Linked DNA regions of Homo sapiens: region 2 is linked to region 1. Evidence: fine-mapped expression QTL. Tissue or cell type: whole blood. Region 1 holds a variant in brackets; the other region holds the start of a gene. All regions are shown on one strand. Distances are from middle to middle.

The links. PIP is the estimated chance that this variant, and not a neighbour inherited with it, causes the effect.
Region 2: it holds the start of PODXL2, and the variant in region 1 is fine-mapped to the expression of PODXL2 in whole blood (TOPMed, PIP above 0.99).

Annotation. Positions count from the first base shown.
Region 1 is chr3:127,648,687-127,656,464 of GRCh38, forward strand. All of the region lies in intron 2 of PODXL2 (podocalyxin like 2), which reads left to right. Among named protein-coding and RNA genes, the nearest start is that of ABTB1, 20 kb to the right of the region's middle. The variant G/C (reference allele first, on the strand shown) is at 3,666.
Region 2 is chr3:127,625,670-127,631,654 of GRCh38, forward strand. PODXL2 (podocalyxin like 2) reads left to right here and starts at 3,516. Exons shown (of 8, transcript NM_015720.4): 1 at 3,516-3,620. The coding sequence starts at 3,551. LOC107986126 (a long non-coding RNA gene) reads right to left here and starts at 3,294. Exons shown (of 2, transcript XR_001740892.2): 1 at 3,137-3,294. RefSeq lists silencers at 3,449-3,518, 3,629-3,758 and an enhancer at 4,159-4,218.

The DNA.
Region 1 (7,778 bases):
CTCACTGCAACCTCTGCTGCATGGGTTCAAGTGATTCTTAGTCTCCTGAGTAGCTGAGATTACAGGTGTGTGCCCCTATGCCCAGCTAATTTTTGTATTTCTTTTTTTTTTTTTTTTTTTTTTTGAGACGGAGTCTTGCTCTGTCGACCAGGCTGGAGTGCACTGGTGCGATCTCAGCTCACTGCAATCTCTGTCTCCCGGATTCAAGCAATTCTCCTGCCTCAGCCTCCTGAGAACTGGGGCTGCAGGCAGGTGCCACCACCCCCAGCTAATTTTTGTATTTTCAGTAGAGACGGGGTTTTGTCATGTTGGCCAGGCTGGTCTTGAACTCCAAACCTCAGGAGATCCACCTGCCTTGGTCTCCCAAAGTGCTGGGATTACAGGCATGAGCCATTGCACCCAGCTCTTTCCAGACTTTTTTTTTTTCCTTTATAGGACATATATAAAAATATGCTTTTACAAAAAATGGACAATAGTGGACACTGTGGTATACACATCTTGCTGTTTCACTTAGAAACCTCTTTCCAAGCCAGCACACACAGCTCTGCAGCCTGTTCAAGGCTGCCATGGTCTCCCAGTATAAGGCGGGTCTATCATTTCTTTGGGCAGTCCCCTGCCATGTGGGTGCTGGACCCCAGTCTTCTGCTACATGGACTGTGCCATGATGGGGATCTATAAAGCCACATGACTGTGAGCGTCCCTAATCGTCTCCTTAGGGTACCTTTCCAGAAGTGAGATTGTAGGTTCAGAATATTTGTCTTTAAAGCTTCTCGTTCCTGTGACTCAGTAGCTCTCCAGAAATGTGGCCTGCTTTCCTTCCCATCCCTCACCCTTCCAATACTAGGCATGAATGACTTTGAATGTATACATATACTTGTCAGGTTGGTAGTCCAAAGATTTTGGCATTTTGCAGTTTACTTTATATTCCTTTGATGACTATTGAGGTTGACTATCAAAAAGTAGTTTTAAGCCAGGCATGGTGGCTTACGCCTGTAATTCCAGCACTTTGGGAAGCCGAGGCGGGTGGATCACCTGAGGTGAGGAGTTCGAGACCAGCCTGGCCAACATGGTGAAACCCCGTCTCTACTAAAAATACAAAAATTGGCTGGGTGTGGTGGTGGGTGCCTGTAATCCCAGCTACTCAGGAGGCTGAAGCAGGAGAATTGCTTGAACGCAGGAGACAGAGGCTGCAGTGAGCCCAGATCACACTGCTGCACTCCAGCCTGGACACCAGAACAAGACTTTGTCTTAAATAAAAAAGTAGTTTTAAGTTATACTAAAACGTCTTCCCTTGCACCTCTGTTTTAGACATATTTATTTTTAATTTTGAGTGTTTTTATATTAACACTCAGTTGGATAACTGACTTGAGAGTTGTAGTGAGGGGACAATTTTCAGTGACTTGACATTAACCTAAAGGGACATTTAAAGTGATCTTTCAAGGGCTCTGGCCCTTATGCCTGTTTTAATTCTGTCTCTTGAATAGAAGAATCAGTTCATTGATATTTCAGCCTGTGCTGAAGTTCATCCCTGGGATTATGGCTGCCCTGAGAGATAGAAGTAAAGTCCAGAGTGACTTCGATAAACTGGGGAAAGAAACCTATACAGAACTGTGATGAAATATAGGAGGGAAAAATGATCTATTTAGGGAACAAAGCCAGCACCATAATGAGTTTAAAAGAAAGCGGAGAAATAAGGCCTAGGGGACCCAGGCCTGGGGCTTCATCAGGGTGAGCTGGAGCTGCATCTGAGCCAGCACCAACCCATCACAGGGGGCGCGGGAGAGCTCAGCTTACCAGCTGTGATAAATGACAGTAGTGCCACTGGAGTGGAGAAACCCCTTTACATTTTGCATCAATTAGTCTCAAGTTAGTGAATCTTGTTCAGTTTTCAATAGTTCATTCAGCAAATATTTACTGTGTACCCCCTGTGCTGATTTTGTAACACTCTTTTTTGTTTTTTGTTTGTTTTTTTTGTTGTTGTCGTTGTTGTGACGGAGTCTTGCTCTGTCGCCCAGGCTGGAGTGCAGTGGTGCGATCTCGGCTCACTGCAAGCCCCGCCTCCTGGGTTCACACCATTCTCCTGCCTCAGCCTCCTGAGTAGCTGGGACTACAGGCACCCACCACCACACCCAGCTAATTTTTTTTTGTATTTTTAGTAGAGACGGGGTTTCACCGTTTTAGCCAGGATGGTCTCCATCTCCTGACCTCGTGATCCACCCACCTCAGCCTCCCAAAGTGCTGGGATTACAGGCGTGAGCCACCGCGCCCAGCTGTAATACTCCTAAAACTGTGGTGAGGCTGGGTGCGATGGCTCACACCCGTAATCCCAACGCTTCGGGAGGCCGAGACGGGTGGATCACCTGAGGTCAGGAGTTCAAGACCAGCCTGACCAACATGGTGAAACCCCATCTCTACTAAAATACGAAAATTAGCCAGATGTGGTTGCGGGCACTTTAATCCCAGCTACTCGGGAGGCTGAGGCAGGAGAATCGCCTGAACCCAGGAGGCGGAGGTTGCAGTGAGTTGAGATCGTGCCATTGCACTCCAGCCTGGGCGACAGACTAAGACTCCATCTCAAAACAAACAAACAAAAAACACCAGGGTGAATCCAGAGTTTTCACAAGAGAAGGATGAAAACAGAAAGGTTGAGAATAAAGAATAATTACAGTTGTTTAGCCCCAGGAAAAGAAGCTAGGTTTAGGGGCAACTAAGAGACTATGTACATTGTTTCCTCTGAAGGCGGTGCTAGCAGGTGCTGCTCACTTACCAGATGAAACAGAGATGGACTTGAGTTGTAAAGGAACCATCACAGCTGGGTTTAGGCAAATGGGGGTGTAGGGGTAAGTCAATAACACAGAAATGCCTCTCTAAAGAGACCCAGCCATATTCTTGAAGATAATTGCCAGCCCATCTTCTCTAGACTCACCAGTGCCTGCCAGAGGGCTGAGGCCTCGTCAGGTAGCCTCCTGTGGTCCCTTCCCGTGTTAGGACCCTGACCCTAACCACGGATACACCTGCCGTGAGCTGGGCTGTGTGGATGCTGAGAGGAGCAGAGAACATGGAGTGTGACAGAAGGAAAGTGTGCCTTCTGTGGGCTGGGTGTTTTGCATTCCTGATGCCACTTCATCTTTGTAACAACCTGAGGTATTAGCCTCACATCATGGAGAGGTGGGTGTGTGGCACACAGAGGCAAGTGGCCACCCAGAATTCCAGCCCATGCCTCCAGAACCCTGAAGCTTGGCCTGGGGCTCTTAACGCCAGCCACTCTTGTGATTCAAGCCCAGCTTTAAGGAGGTTGGCTGCGGCCACAAAGGTACGGGCAGACTGGGGAGAGGTCATGATTCTGCTTGTCAGCTTGCTCCTGTCCAGCATCCCAAGCCAAGCCCGGGTGCTGGACTAAATGACCAGGATGTGTCAAAAGACACTGGCTTTAACCACACAAGAGTCTAAGAGTCTTACAACTTTACAACTGTGACAAGTCTAGCATCACAACTTAGAGCAAGAATCCTCCTCTCCTGGGCTCCCTCATGTGGAAAAGGCGAGAGATGGGCCCTTTGCTCTTGCAGGGCCTCTGTCTACCTGTAAAATCCCTGAGTCTGGGATTTGGAGACCCAACTGTTCTGAGGGCTCTGGGGAACATGTGGTTTCTGTTTAGAGCCACCAGG[G/C]GGGGCTGTGACTTCACAGTGCCATTCCCAGCAGTTCTGGGAGGGTCGGGAGCCCAGGAGCCTAAGTGTTATCCTGCAATCAATCCAGGAGGTCCTCCAGGGCTCTCCTGTGCAACGAGGGGGTCTGCCCCAGGTGTCTTCTGAGCTGCAGCTTAGACATTCGTGGCCTCCCATGCTCCGAGGCCCAGCCCGAGCCTCTCCCTGGAGGGCTTGAGCCTTGGATGACCTTTCTCATCCTTCAGTGCCCCAGCTCTTCCTGAGGACAGGGATGAATCCATGGAGCCAGCCCTTAGACTTCCACGTGTCTCCAGTGTGTCTCCCGGGCGGCTCGGCTTCCTCACACCTGTGTCCAGGTGTGGGGCTCTAGAGGTACACCTTGGTCCCAGACACGCTTTTGGGGTTTGGCTACAAACTAAAAGGGCTTCGTGGAGGGACCCTTCTCCTGAGCCTGAAGTGGATGGGGTAGGAAGGGATTCCCTGGAGCGCTCAGCTGGTCAGACCCTCCCTCTGGAATCAGAGCTGTCCACGGCAGCAGGGCTGAGGGTGTGGGCATCAAGGACTTGCCCTGGGTCACTGAGGGCAGGCTGGGAGGGCAGGTAGCCCTGTCATGTGTCCCCTCTCTCCTCCCTCTCCTCTTGCCTCTCCCCTCTCTTTACTCTCCTCATCTTCATCTCCCTCCTTTTCCTGCTCAGCTTCACTTCTTTGTTTCTCTTCTTCCATTCCCAATTTGATCCTTTTTCACCTCCAAAGTGCCTGCTGAGGCTTCCTCTCCCCTCTCAATGCAGCGAGTCCCTAGAAGCCTGATCTGTATTCCTTGGACACCTGAGTGGGAAAAGCACCTTCCTCCCTGTCTCTCAAAACTGTCTCACCTGCTTCAGGGCGGTGTGGCTCCTTCCTGCCACAGGGCTCTGCGCTCTCAGCCAGGATAGCCTGCCCTGTCCCTTGCCATGTTTCTATTCCCCTCTTGACAGCTCAAGCATGTTCGCTGACCTGTAGTGAAAGTCAGTGTCTCAGGCCGGGTGCAGGGGCTCTCTCCTGTAAGCCCAGTACTTTGGGAGGCCAAGGCAGGCAGATCACGAGGTCAAGAGATCAAGACCAGCCTGGCCAACAAGGTGAAACCCCGTCTCTACTAAAAATACAAAAAATTAGCTGGGCGTGGTGGCGTGTGCCTATAGTCCCAGCTACTCAGGAGGCTGAGGCAGGAGAATTGCTTGAACCCAGGAGGCGGAGGTTTCAGTCAGCCAAGATCGTGCCAATGCACTCCAGCCTCGGTGACAGAGTGAGACTCCATCTCAAAAAAGAAAAAAAAAAAAAGAGAGAAAGTGTCTCTCACATGTGCACGCTCTCTCTGTTACTCCTTATTTTAAAAAATTTTCAATTTACAGAAAAGTTGCAAGAATAATTCCGTCCACCCCTTGCTCGGACTCCCCCATTATTAACACTTTGCCGCAGTTGCTGTATCAGTGTGTATGTGTACATGTATGGATATGGAGATGCAGATCTGTACTTCTTGCTAAACCATTTAATGGTAAGTTGCAGACATGATGCTCCTTTGCTCCAAATACTTCAGTGTGCATTTCTTAGGAACAAAGCATTCTCCTAAAAACCACAGCAGGATGATCAAAATCAGGAAATTAACACTGATACAATATGCTTCTGTAATTACAAACTTTATTCAAACTTTGCCAGTTTTCCCAGTAGTGTCTTTTATAGCAAAAGAAAAAAAGAGCAGGGTTTCATAGTCCACTATCCGGTCCAGAATCACGTACTGCATTTAGTCCGCATGTCTCTTTTGTCTCTTTTTTATTCTGGAAAACCCTCTAATCTTTCTTTGTCTTTCATGACCTTGACATTGTTGGAGTGCAGGCCAGTTATTTTGTAGATTGCCCCTCAATTTCAGTTTGTCTCAAATTTCCCCATGGTCAGATTCAGGCTCTGCATTTTTGGCAGGCATATTGTGGACGTGATGCTGTATCTTCTTAGTGAATCGTACCGTGGTTCTGCTCTTGGGTAAAGCCTGGCTTCTTCACTCTTTATTCTCAACTCCCATTTGGATCCAGTCTCACGGGCCCTCTCCTGGGACCCCTGCTTTCACACTGCTGGTGTTTGCCCTGCAGCTGCCCACACAGACGCCCCTCACCCCACTGGTTCCTAGTGTGTGCTCCCATCAGGCCTCCCGGTAATTCTGTTTCTGTTTTAGGAGACATTTGTAATACTGAAATCATATTTACACTTGTCAACAGATGAGTAATCCCCTCCTGCCCTGCCCTTTTTCCTAGATTTTCTTTGACTTAAAACTCAAGTGCTTAGGCTTTAGTTACATTCGGTATAAAAAATGAAAAATAAAAACTCAAGTGCTTATCCTGCTCCTCATTCTATGGAGACACTTCCACTTTTCCTGTTATTATTTTACCAGGTAATAACTCCTTTAATAATAATAATGGCAGGCGGATGGCCAGGTGCGGTGGCTTACGCCTATAATCCCAGCACTTTGGAGGGCCAAGGTGGGCGAATCCACCTGAAGTCAGGAGTTTGAGACCAGCCTTGCCAACATGGCAAAACCCCGTCTCTACTAAAAATACAAATTTTTCTTTCTTTCTTTTTTTTGTGAGACAGAGTCTCACTCTGTCACCCAGGCTGGAGTGCAGTGGTGCAATCTCGGCTCACTGGAACCTCTGCCTCCCGTGTTCAAGCGACTCTCATGCCTCAGCCTCCCAAACAGCTGGGATTACAGGCACCTACCACCACACCTGGCTGATTTTTGTATTTTTAGTAGAGACGGGATTTCACCATGTTGGCCAGGCTGGTCTTGAACTCCTGACCTCAGGTGATCCACCCCCCGCTTGGCCTCCCAAAGTACTGGGATTACAGGCATGAGTCACCATGCCCAGCCATAATACAAAAATTAGCTGGGCTTGGTGGCAGGTGCCTGTAATCTCAGCTTCTCTAGAGGCTGAGGCAGGAGAATTGCTTGAACCTGGAAGGTGGAGGTTGGAGTGAGCCGAGATCACACCACTACACTTCAGCCTGGGCAACAGAGTGAGACTCTGTCTCAAATAATAATAATGATAATAACAACAACAATAATAATAGCAGGAGGAGGTGGAGGACCCCCCACAGTTAACTGAGTGTTTACTCTGCACTGCGGACTGTGCGCAGGGTCACCTCACTGAACCCTGACCAGAGCCCTGTGTGGCAGGTACTATTTTTATTTTACACTTAAGGAAAGGGAGACACATGGAGGTTAAGCAGCATGTCCAAGATCATACAGCTGATAAGCAGTGAAACTGAGACCACACTGTAAAAAGAAAAGGAATAATTTTAGATCTTGAGAGCTGGTAAGGAAGTAGGAAAGGACTGCTGATTCCAAGTGCCAGTGAGCAAGCGTTCAGTGATTTGTCAAGTCACTGGAGTGAGAGGCTGGAAAAAAGCGAGGAGCTCTGGAGAAGATGTAAATTTGGGAGCCTTTAGCATAGAGAAAATAGATGCAGCCTGTGGAATGAGCACTGACCAAGGAAGAAGTGTGGAAATGATGAGTCAGAGGCTGACCCTGGAAGGGACTGCATTTTGGGAGGCAGGAGAGGAACTCATAGAGACAGTAAAGAAGTCTGTGCAGTGACGGGAGGGCCTCTTACCCCTTGGAGGCACAGGCCCTGGTTTTTAGGAGGCAGAAGAATTCAAAAACACACGTTGCTCTCCTTTCTACTCTGGGCCAGGCACTATGTTAGGTGCTGGGAATGTAGGGATGAAGACAATTGCTTTGCTTGGCATCAAAAATTTGTAATCTAGTGAATCCTATTTTATTCTTACTTAAGACACTAGAGTTGTTTGTAATGCCATTGGTGTATAAGACACATTTATCAGAACTATATCCAAAGCTTAAAATATCAGTGATATGAAGAACCTTAGAAATCATATATACCATCATCCTCATTCCACATAAAAACTGAAGCCCAGGCCAGGTGCAGTGGCTCATGCCTGTAATCCTGGAACTTTGGCAGGCCAAGGCAGGAGGATCGCTTGAGCCCAGGAGTTCAAGACCAGCCTGGGCAACACAGGGAGACCCCATCTCTACAAATAATAATTTTAAAGAATTAGCCAGGTGTTGGGCGC
Region 2 (5,985 bases), 24 kb before region 1:
ACACTTTTAAAACATTTTCATCACTCCCTTCCCCCAAAAAACATACCCATTAGCAGTTACTCCTCTTCCTTCCCCACCAGCCCTAGGCAACCACTAATCTGCTTTCTATTGCTAAAGATTTACCTATTCTGGACATTTCATAAAAATTGAATCATATAATATGTAGTCTTTTGTGATGGGCTTCTTTCACTTAGAATAATGTTTTCAAGGTTCATCCACGTTGTAGCATGTGTCAGTACTTTCTTTGTATTGCTGACCAACATGCCATTGTATGGGTATGCTACATTTTATTTATGCATTCATCAGTTGATGAGAATTTGGGTTGTTTCCACCTTTTGATTATTATGACTAATGCTGCTATGAACATTCCTGTAATGTATTTGACTAGACATATGTTTTCTATGCTCTTAGGTATGTATTAGGAGTGGAATTATGAAGTCATATGGTAACTCTATGCTTAATCTTTTGAGAAACTGCCTATGTCCAAAGCAGCTGCACCATTTTACATTCCCATCAGCAGTGTACGAGGAGGGTTCTTTCTCCATATCCTATATAACACGTGGTCTCTCTTTTTAATTCTAGCCACCCACCTTAGTGAGACGCAAAGTGGTTTCCTTTTTTTTGAGACAGAGTCTCGCTTTGTCACCCAGGCTGGAGTGCAGTGGTGTGATCTCAGCTCACTGCAACCTCCACCCCCTGGGTTCAAGCAATTCTCATGCCTCAGCCTCCTGTGTAGCTGGGATTACAGTCATGCACCACCATGCCAGAGTAATTTTTGTATTTTTAGTAGAGACAGGGTTTTGCCATGTTAGCAAGGCTGGTATCCAACTCCTGACCTCAAGCTATCCACCCAGCCCGGCCTCCTAAAGTGCTGGGATTACAGGCGTGAACCACCGTACCCAGCCTGAGAAGTGGTTTCTTATTGTGGTTTTGATTTGCATTTATCTGATGGTTAATGAGGCTGAGCATGTTTTCATGTGCTTATTGACATTTGGAGGAATGTATATTCAGATCTTTGTCCATTTTAAAACATTGAGTTGTCTTTATTACTGACTTGTAAAAATTCTTTGTATATTCTAGATACATGATTTCCAAATGTTTCTTCCCATTCTGAGGATTGCCTTCACTTAAATTTTTGTTTCTTTTTTTGAGACAGAGTCTCACTCTGTCACCCAGGCTGAAGTGCAGTGGCACAATCATAGCTCACTGCAGCCTTGAACTCCTGTGCTCAAGCAATCCTCCCACCTCAGCTTCCTATGTAGCTAGGATTACAGGTGTGTGCCACCATGCCTGGCTAATTTTAAAATTTTTCATAGAGATGGCATCTTGCTTTGTTGCCCAGGTTGATCTTGAACTCTTGGGCTCAAGTGATCCTCCCACCTCAGCCTCCCAAGTAGGTAGGACTACAGACATGCACCACTACACCTGGCTAATTGATTTACTTAGAGATGGGGGTCTCACCATATTGCCAAAGCTGGTCTCAAACCCCTAGCCTCAAGTGATCCATCCTCCTACCTCAGTCTCCCCCAAGTAGCTGGGATTCCAGGCACATGCCACCACCCCTGGCAGCTTTAGAGTTTTCTTCATTTGGAGCTTACATATCTGGTTTGGTTTATTCCAGTTTTTAATAATTGTTGCTGTGATTGCGATCTTTTCTCCTACTACATTTTCTAAGTGGTTATTGAGGATACACAGAAAAGCTATTGATTTCTGTACGTTATCTTTTATTCAGCAATCTTGCTGAACTCATTGGTTTTCAATTATTTTGCCAACTGATGATCTTGCATTTTCTAGATAAACCTGCAAATAATGAGTTTTCCCCCAATACTTTCATCCCATTTCTTCTATCAGGCCTTGTTGCAGTGTCTCTTATAGAATATTCAATCATTGTGGTGGTAGTGAGGATTATTTTGTTCCATTCACTTAAAAGAGAATGTTTCTAATGTTTCATCATTAAGTATGGTTTCACCATTAAGTATGATAATAAAGGTTTCTGGGAGATACCCTTAATGGAATTGAGGACGTTTCCTTCCATTTCTTGTTTGCTTCTAAGATCTTTGTTTCTTGTAACAGAAAAACAAAACAAAACACAACAAAAAACCAAAGGGATGCTCCTTTCATCCTCAGAGGAGGAAAGAAGAGGGAAGCTGGGTCTAGACACACCCTGGATTTCTCTTTTCCAAGCCCAGCTGACAGCCACTTTTCTAGTACCCCTAACACCCACCAAATAAAAGGTGCTACATTTTGCTCATGTTCTTTCTTTTGTCTGGAACCCATTTCTTCCCTATGCTCCTCCACCCCAACTCCTATTTCTCCTAAGTATTAATATTTAGTCTGGAAGAGTCCCGTGAGATTATCTCCAATGTCTGATGCTATACCCCTGCATAGGGGGGTGGGGATATACTTTGAAAAAGCATATTCAAATAACGATTTGTTATTTTAAAGAAGTGTTTTCCTAATATGGTATATATAAAGTAACATTCCACAAAATTGTGGTTGCTGTATATTTAAGCTGCAGTACTTCTAAAAGGGTAGTCGGGGTTTTTCTCTCCCTAAAAGAGGCTGAGCTTCTTTCTAACTCAGGAACTCTATCAGTGAGCTTTTCCCTCTGCCTTGTAAGTTCTCTCCCAAACCCAATCTCCTACCTAATACCCACTCATCCTTCCAGATGCCAGCCAGCTTACCTTAAATGCTGTTTCTTCAGGAAGGCAAGCATAAGGTTCCCCTCTGTGCTGTCTCCTAGCCCCTTATACTCCTTAACAGACCGACTACCAATTGCAATCATAGGACCATATGTGTGTCCATTTTGTTTTTCAGTCTGTTTTCTCTACGAGCCTAAACTATGAGGACGAGGGATGTGCCTGTTTTATTTACCACTACAGTGCTTGGCATATTAAGGATCTTCAGTTGCCAAAAGGGAGCACATGTTAGAGAAGTCAGCACCTCTCTCATAATCTAAAACCCCCCAGTTAGCAAATGGGGCAAGTGGGGCCCAGAGGTGAGAAGAGATTTACTCAAGGTCTCGGAACCAATCTGATCCTGAGCCAGACTGCCTAGCTCTAAAGTCCAGTTCTTTGCTCTCAGGTTCTCCTTCAGGGCTCACCCAATCTAAGTACCCTGAGAAGTCTTTCCTTACCCCAGGCCTCTGTCCACCCTCACAGTCATTTCCACGCGTCGTCCTCGTCCCATCAGTCCCATCTGCCACAGCTGCCCACTCTGCTTCCCAGGGAACGGGTGACCGCGCGGGGAGAGAGCGGCATCCGGGCGCGAGGTGCGAGGCCCAGGTCTGCGGGCGGCCGGGCCAAGCCCCCGAGCCTCGGCGGTGCTGATTGGCCGGCCTGGCGGGGGGGACGGGCGGAGGGACGGCCGCCCGCGCGTCCGCTTCGTCTCCGCGGGGGCGCGCCCGCGGCACGCGGCCGGGCGGGGCCGGGCGTGAGTGACGGCCATGCGGACCAATGGGGCGGGCGCGCGCCGCCGCCGCCGCCCGCGCGGCCCCTGACGCGGGCCCGGGCGCCGCGCCGCTGCGGCTGCAGGCGGCGACGGCTACACCATGGGCCGGCTGCTGCGGGCCGCCCGGCTGCCGCCGCTGCTTTCGCCGCTGCTGCTTCTGCTGGTTGGGGGTGAGTGCGCTCCGGGCCCGAGCGCGGGAGGGCGGGCGGCGGCGTGGGCGCGGTGCTGGACAGCTCCCCGGGCCGCCAACAAAGGGGCCAGAGTGCGGCGCCGCCGGGAGCGCGCGTGTCCCGGCCGGGCCGCGGCGCCGCCCCGACACACGCGCACGAGGAGTGGGTGCGTGGGGGCCGCGGCGGGCGCCTGGCGTGCCGGGCGACCCCCGACAAAGGCGCGGCGGTGAAGCTGGGACACAGCACCGTGGCCCCCACGCCGCGGCTCTCAGGGGCAGGTGCGCAGGCTGCTGCCTCGCGGGCCGGGGGGGCGCGCACGTGTGGGTGTGCATGTGTGTGCGTGTGCTTGTGTGTGTGCGAGTGCATTGTGTGCCTGCGCACTCGGGGGAAGAGGCGTGTGTGACAGCCACGCGGGGAGGAGGCCGCATTGTGAAGGTCCCAGGGGCCGCCTGCGGAGTGTGGGGCGGGTACGCTGAGGCGCGGGTGGCTGTTTACGCGTGGCGTTGCCGGGAGGGAGTGTGAGTGTGTCACGGTGAATGGGTATTCTCTCCTGTTCTGGGCGACTCTATTAGGAGCTGACAAAAACGGGCGTACAGCCACGGAAGGCCCGTGACAGCACACGGCGGGAGGCTCCCACGCAGCTCACACACGAGGGAGGTGTGAGACTCAGATGTGTGGTTTCCATTCAGCAGCCACGCCGGGCGGCGGGCTGTGTGGGTGCGTGGCGGGCTGGGGGTGTGGCACAGGTGTGAAAGGGATGTGTCTGCCTGAGAGAGAAAGAGACGGGCCTCCTGATGGCTTCCAGCGCAGACGGGGATTTAGTGGAGGGGGTGTGTAGGGAGGTGGGCATGGGGTGTGACAGCCCATGAGGCAGGCGGCCACTATGGAAATGGCGGGGAGAAGGGCTGTCTGCAAAGGTGGGTCAAATAAGGTCATAGCTGAGCAGCTCCTGCACACACTGGCAGAGCAGAGGGAGTGTGTTACGGTGTATGTTAAGGTGTGACTGGTGCTGCTGGAGGAATACCCGGATGAGGAAGTGTGCATGTGTGCCTGTGCACACTCATCAGCCAGCTGTAACTTCACTTCTGATGCACACGTCAAAATAGCGTCCTAGTATGATGTGTGTATGTGCATGTAGGAGTGTGTATGTGCATGTAGGAGTGTGCACAGGACATTTCCCACGCAGCTGGCCCATGAAGACACAGGCACTTTGTGTCCAGATGTGTGTGAGTGAAAGAGAAACTAGTGAAGGGTCTCTATGGGAAGGGAGGAACAGTCTTTGCCTGAGGTGGGCCATGAACCTGGGACTCAGAGTGGCAGAATCCCAGGGTAAATGGCTGGGAGGGGAAAGTGGTCCCTCGCACATTCCTGTGCATGTCATGGGAAGGCTCAGTTCAGGGAGGGTACATTTTCTCCACAGTCAGTCTAGGGATGAAGAAAGGCCCTAGGTGGTGTGCACAGAAAAACATGTCCATCAGTGTTGGCTCAGACACTCACACAAACCCACCTGTATTCTTTCACGCCGTAAATCCTCTTTGGAAAAAGGCGACATTCAATAAATAAACATCAATTGATTGGTCTGCTATTTCTTTGTGTGACAGTCATAAACCAGAACTGGCCAGCAACGTCCTCATGGACCCAGGCCCAGCTGTAACTGCCCATGTGCTTATGTGACCAGCTGTGAGGACTGCAGGCAGCCTGCCTCCCGGCTCCTCTCTCCCGTGCATGCTCTTCATGACGCACTTCTTACCCCCTGCTTGGAGGGCATGTGCGTGTGTCTAGCAGTGTGTCTCTTTCTTACACACCTTTGTGTGGAAGCCCTTCAGGGACCTGTCAGCATTGTTTCTCAGGTGCTTACAGAGTGGAGGTAGCGTGACTGTGCTCAGCAGTTCCTGTTGTCGCTGACACTTAAGGGTGAGGAGCTGTGTGACAGATGCTGCAGGGCCCCTCCCATGTTGGTGTCTGCCAAGAGCTTAGGGAGACTGGACTTCAAAGACCCTGCTTAGGGGAGAGGTGGGGTGTAGCTGATGGTGGAAATCAGAAAGGAGTTTTGCACCGGGAGCAGATCACAGGGACTGATTTGAAAAGGTAAGATAAAACATGAGGATCGCTGGGGTCTTGTTTTTTTCACCTCCCCAAATGTCAGCCTGCTTCCTTTGCCTCCTTCTGTGTTTGTTTGGGTCAGATTTTCATTTCTTTGAGGCTGATCCCCTAATCCTTTTCATGTGCCATCTTTTTCTCTCTCCTCTGTTGGGTGTGATGATGTAACAGAAAATTATAGGTGCTAGAGGGAAAAAGGAAATCAATCACACGCAGAGTGTAATTCTGAAATTTTAAGTCAGGTGGGGTCTCAATTAAGGCAGAT